Regions from separate parts of the Homo sapiens genome. Here region 1 is linked to region 2. Evidence: fine-mapped expression QTL. Tissue or cell type: skeletal muscle. Region 2 holds a variant in brackets; the other region holds the start of a gene. All regions are shown on one strand. Distances are between the middles of the regions. Region 1 holds the start of ZNF839 (zinc finger protein 839). Region 2 overlaps ZNF839 (zinc finger protein 839).

What was found. PIP is the estimated chance that this variant, and not a neighbour inherited with it, causes the effect. A credible set is the group of variants that fine-mapping cannot tell apart.
Region 1: ZNF839 starts here. The variant in region 2 is the best candidate, but not a certain one, in a credible set for the expression of ZNF839 in skeletal muscle (GTEx, PIP 0.84).

The regions. Positions count from the first base shown.
Region 1 is chr14:102,318,167-102,321,075 of GRCh38, forward strand. It overlaps ZNF839 (zinc finger protein 839), which reads left to right and starts at 1,580. Exons shown (of 8, transcript NM_018335.6): 1 at 1,580-1,887. The coding sequence starts at 1,600. RefSeq lists silencers at 1,640-1,739, 1,800-1,989 and an enhancer at 2,090-2,199.
Region 2 is chr14:102,340,416-102,343,324 of GRCh38, forward strand. ZNF839 (zinc finger protein 839) reads left to right here. Exons shown (of 8, transcript NM_018335.6): 8 at 908-1,952. The coding sequence ends at 1,764. Among named protein-coding and RNA genes, the nearest start is that of CINP, 21 kb to the right of the region's middle. The variant C/T (reference allele first, on the strand shown) is at 1,578.

The sequences.
Region 1 (2,909 bases), 22 kb before region 2:
TACACAGGATGGATGTCACATCTTTTAATAGTCGTGCCAGGCACGTTGTTAGATGCAGGGACACAGCATGGAGGAATCGGTGGAGGTTGCTGCCCTCAAGTTTCCTGAGCTTGAAGGGGTTTAGAATATGCCACGGTGGCATGAAAATTATTTTGAGCAGAAGGCATGTGAATTCCTGAAATCTGGTCGGGTGTGGTGGCTCACACCTGTAATCTCAGCACTTGGGAAGGCCGAGGCGGGCGGATCACCTAAGGTCAGGGTTTCAAGACCAGCCTTACCAACATGATGAAACCCCGTCTCTACTAAAAATACAAAAATTAGCCAGGCATGGTGGCGGACGCCTGTAATCCCAGCTACTCAAGAGGCTGAGGCAGGAGAACCGCATGAACCCAGGCGATGGAGGTTGCGGTGAGCTGAGATTGTGCCACTGCACTCCAGCCTGGGTGACAGAGTGAGATCTTGTCTCAAAAAAAAAAAAAAATTGTGGTAAGATACCCATAATATAAAATTCACCATTAAAAAATAACACGGAAGGGATCATCGTGAATGCAATGTGAGTATTGATGAGGATGGTGGTGATCTTCCAGAACCTTCTCTGACGCCACCCAGGCCGCCAGCCTTACTTTACCGGCTTCGGCGCTCATCATACTGTGCTGCAAATGCCAGTTTCCTCCTTCCCCCTTGGGAAGTTTCCTCCTTGGGGGTCGGCACCTAGACTGTATACCCCCCAGGGCGGAAACAGCGGTTCACCCACCAGGTGCTTAAGAAGGGTTTGTGGACCAGTGGACCTCCTGCTCTCCCTGGGGAAAGGAGCTGGGACATGTGTACACACCTGCAGCTACAAGATTCGGAGGGCGCACAGAGCCTCAACCGTAAGAAGGAGAGGCGATCAGGCTGAGGAAGATGGGGCAGTGGAGCTGGATGGATAGAGAGAGGGTGGGTTCATTCATTCGTTCACTCATTCGTTTATTCATATTCATCCATCCATCATTCATGCCCTGAGCGTGCGTTGTGTTCTGGGCAGGGCCTGTGCTGGGCACCGATTGTGTAATATATCATCTCTCCCTTCAAGGTGCACCCAATCTGGGTGGGTGGGTAGAGAGAAGCTACGGTGACAAGGCAAAAATTTGGGAAACACTCTCGTTAACAATTCAAACTGTGGTCCCCTCCCAGATGTATAAATCCAAATGTTTAGGGGTGGGCACAGTACTCTGCATCTCCAGACAGCATCCTCCGCTGATTCGGATGCATGATGACGTCAGAACACTTGGATATTGTGGTAACTTTTGGGCCAGGGGCTCTGAAACCCCGAAGACCTCCCCCTGGGAGATCCGGGACAGCTCCCAGAGAAGGTGAGTCTTAAACACATCCGTGACAGGCAATAAGGAAAATAAGGGGGGTCCGCTCTGCTGATCAGCCCTAAGAGCCGCGGCGGTTGTCGGCTGGGGCGGGGCACTCCACGACTTTCCCGGCCAGACACGGTCGCCTTCCTAGGTGTCTTGGCCTGCGAGGCACTCGTAGCCCGCCCCTCTCCTAGGTGACGTACATTGGAGACGCCGTCGCTCAGCGACCCGGGTTCGAGTCCCCGCCTCGGCCGCCATGGCGGATGCGGAGCCGGAGGCTGGGGGCGGCAGCGAGGATGGCGGCGGCGGCGGCGGCCCGGCTCCTCCGGGCCAGAGCGGCAGCGTCGCACGTGTGGCCCCGCTGGGCCCCGAGCAGCTGCGGCAGGTCCTGGAGCAGGTGACGAAGGCGCAGCCGCCGCCGCCGCCGCCCCCCTTCGTGCTGCGGGACGCGGCGCGGCGGCTGCGGGACGCGGCCCAACAGGCCGCCCTGCAGCGGGGCCGGGGCACCGAGCCCCCGCGCCTGCCGCGCCTGCTCCCGCCCCAGGTGAGGCGTCGGGAGGGACGTGGGGAAACTGAGGCCCGAAGGGGGCCGACGCCCCGCGGCGGGGTAGCTGCTTGTCCGGGGAGGCCAGTATCCGCCCGGGTTAAGACTCAGGGCGTCCCCAGGCTGAGCTTCTTAGGGACGGCGTTCGGCCCCCACCTGTCACCACCCTGGCATTTTCACCCCAGGAGCCTCACTCTAGGAGCGGTTGCTCACGCTGGGCCCTGTGCCTGGAACGCCCTCGTGCCTTCTCTGCCTTCACAGCCCTGCTGGGGGCTTTTGCGTGCTCCCTAGCTCTTCTTACAGGCCTTTCACCGCTGGTTCAGCCTTTGTGGAGCACTTAGAGACCGTGTTCCCAGCACTCCCCACTATGTGCAGGAGGTGAAGCCTTGAACACACTTGCTGAAGAACGAACATAAGGCAGGTTCTGGGATTGACGGGGGCTGCTTTAGAGTGGGTGGTCCCGTAGGCCAGACACTGGAGCTGAAACATAAATGAATTAAAAGGAACCAACTTAGCTTTTCAGTTGTAAGGTGCCAAGGCCCAGGCTTGGAACAAAGTCAAGCACAATACACTAGTTCGCTGCAGGACTTAACATCCTGGGTGATAGTGACTGATTTGTAACCGCAGTACCCAGCACAGTGCCTGATACACAATGTTTGGAATATGTGAAAGCACTCTGTATACTACAAAACATCCTTTCCCAGTGGGTTTATTTCCTGGGCCACACACCTTTTGGTTGCTAGGGGGGTGATAACTAGAAGACGGTCGCCCAACTCCGGAGGGTGAAGCATAGCGCCTGAAGCCAGAGGGCCTACACGGCATCTGTAAAATTCCACCCCATTTCAGCGCTGGGGTTGTAAACAAAATTAGTCTCACCCCAAAATTGCCAAAAGAAGACAGCTTTTTCCACTAGAAGAAACGGGTTAGGGAATAGAATCAGGAACCTTCACTCGTTGAGTTTTTTTGACTGATGTTAGCTGCTTAGGGTTGTATCCAGTTAATCATCAAGACTGGAGAGTTGT
Region 2 (2,909 bases):
CGCCCACCACCACATCTGGCTAATTTTTGTATTTTTAGTAGAGATAGGGTTTCCCCATGTTGGCCAGGCTGGTCTTGAACTCCTGACCTCAAATGATCTGCCCGCCTCAGCCTCCCATAGTGCTAGGATTACAGGCGTGAGCAGCCACCGTGCCCAGCCTGATGGTGATTCTTAATTGGGGCATGTGTTGGAACCACCTGGGGAGGTTATTGTGAAATACAGGGGCCTGGACCTCTGGGAATTCCAGGTCTGCAGGTAGGGTTGTTGGGAGGGTGTGGATGTGAGTATTTGGAAAGGCCTCTTTGGGTGATTCTCCAGCTCACTCTGATGAAGAATCACCAATCATTCATTCAGTATTGGCATAAAATCACTGTTGCTGGGTGTGGTGGCTCATGCCTGTAATCCCAGCACTTTGGGAGGCTGAGTCGGGTGGCTCACAAGGTGAGGAGTTTGAGACCAGCCTGACCTACATGGTGAAACCTTGTCTCTACTAAAAATACAAAAATTAGCTGGGCATGGTGGCGCATGCCTGTAATCCCAGCTATCAGGAGGCTAAGGCAGGAGAATTGCTTGAACCCAGGAGGTGGAGGCTGCAGTGAGCTGAAATCGTGCCACTGCACTCCAGCCTGGGTGACAGAGCGAGACTCCATCTCAAAAAAAAAAAAAAAAAAAAAGCACACTGTCGATTGGCTCTTAGAGCATATTTTTAATACAAAATCTGTCTTTGTGAATAGAGAATAGGGACGTATTTTTTAAAATTGCTACCAATCCCAAGGAGCAAGGAGCATCGATGCTTTGACTTTTCTGCAGGGCAGGTGACTTGGCCTAGCTGGTTTTGGGTGGTGAGTGCAGTGAGTGGGCCATGACACAGTACACGCCATGTTCACCTGTTTCCCAAAATGTTTAGGTTTTTCCCCTCCAGTAAATGTGACTGTCTCTCCCCGTTCTGAAGAAAGCCATACAACGACGGTTTCTGGTGGCAATGGGAGCGTGTTCCAGGCGGGCCCGCAGCTTCAGGCACTGGCTAACTTAGAAGCCAGGAGGGGGTCTATAGGTGCTGCTCTCTCATCCCGGGATGTCAGTGGGCTGCCTGTTTATGCTCAGTCAGGAGAGCCTAGGAGGCTGACCCAGGCACAGGTGGCAGCGTTTCCTGGAGAGAATGCTTTGGAACACTCTTCAGACCAGGACACCTGGGACAGCCTGAGGAGCCCGGGTTTCTGCAGCCCTTTGTCATCTGGTGGTGGAGCAGAGTCCCTGCCGCCTGGGGGGCCTGGACATGCAGAGGCAGGACACCTCGGCAAGGTTTGTGACTTCCACCTGAACCACCAGCAGCCCAGCCCCACCAGCGTCCTGCCTACAGAGGTGGCAGCCCCTCCGCTTGAGAAAATTTTGTCTGTGGATAGCGTGGCAGTGGACTGTGCCTACAGGACTGTGCCCAAGCCAGGGCCTCAGCCTGGCCCACATGGATCACTATTGACTGAAGGGTGTCTCAGAAGCCTTTCGGGGGACTTGAACCGGTTCCCCTGTGGGATGGAGGTGCACTCTGGCCAGAGAGAACTGGAGAGCGTGGTTGCTGT[C/T]GGCGAAGCCATGGCTTTTGAAATTTCCAATGGGAGCCATGAGTTACTGTCTCAGGGACAGAAGCAGATTTTTATTCAGACTTCCGATGGGCTTATCTTGTCCCCTCCAGGTACAATAGTGTCTCAGGAGGAGGACATTGTCACAGTGACTGATGCAGAGGGGCGTGCCTGCGGATGGGCCCGCTAGAAGGAGTTCCTCTAGAAGCTGTGGAGTCGGTCGTCACCGTGGAGCCAGAGCCCTCACAGTGAAGTGGAGTCAGATCCTAGATTCGTCTGATTTTATCCAGAGAAGGTCTATGGCAAGCAATGTATATTTTTCTAATGTGAATATTGCACAGATGAACCTTTTATTTATAAAGAATAATGTCTTTCTGCCCTGCTGTCTACATTTTTCTATGGAGCTTGTCATAATAATAGCAGATATTACCTGATCAGGAATCCCTGTGGCGCGTCTGACGCTCATGAGTTTTTCATGATGGTGATGAGTAGCACTGCACTGTCACCTGATGATTGGCCCTGCTCCGTTTCCCTTCTCTCCTGGGAGATATGCTGCTTTTCCACCAGACTTGCTCCATACTAGAAGCTTCTTTTGGGTTCAATTAAAAAGAAAATAAGCTAGTCATTCTGGGCAGCATTTTATTGATAGAAGGGGGAAAAAGTCATTTCTACTTGCATGATTTTTTAAATTAAATTAAATTAAATTAATTTAATTATTTTTGAGACCAAGTCTTACTCTGTAGCCCAAGCTGGAGTGCAGTGGCGCGATCTTGGCTCACTGCAACCTCTGCCGCCTGGGCTCAAGCGATTCTCGTGCCTCAGCCTCCTGAGTAGCTGTGACTACAGGAGCATGCCACCATGCCCAGCTAATTTTTTTTTTTTGTATTTTAGTAGATACGGGGTTTCACCATGTTGCCCAGGGTGGTCTCAAACTCTTGAGCTCAGGCAATCCGCCCACCTCAGCTTCCCAAAGTGCTGGGATTACAGTACAGGCATGAGCCACTGCACCTGGCCAATGATTTTTTTTTTTTTTTTTGAGATGGAGTTTTGGTCTTGTTGCCCAAGCTGGAGTGCAATGGCTCGATCTTGGCTCACCGCAACCTCCACCACAGGGTTCAAGCAATTCTCCTGCCTCAGCCTCCCAAGTAGCTGGGATTACAGGCATGTGCCATCACACCTGGATCATTTTGTATTTTTAGTAGAGACGGGGTATCTCCATGGTGGTCAGGCTGATCTTGAACTCCTGACCTCAGGTGATCTACGCGCCTCAGCATCCCAAAGTGCTGGGATTATAGGTGTGAGCCACTGCACTGGGCCTGATTGTTTTTTTTTGAG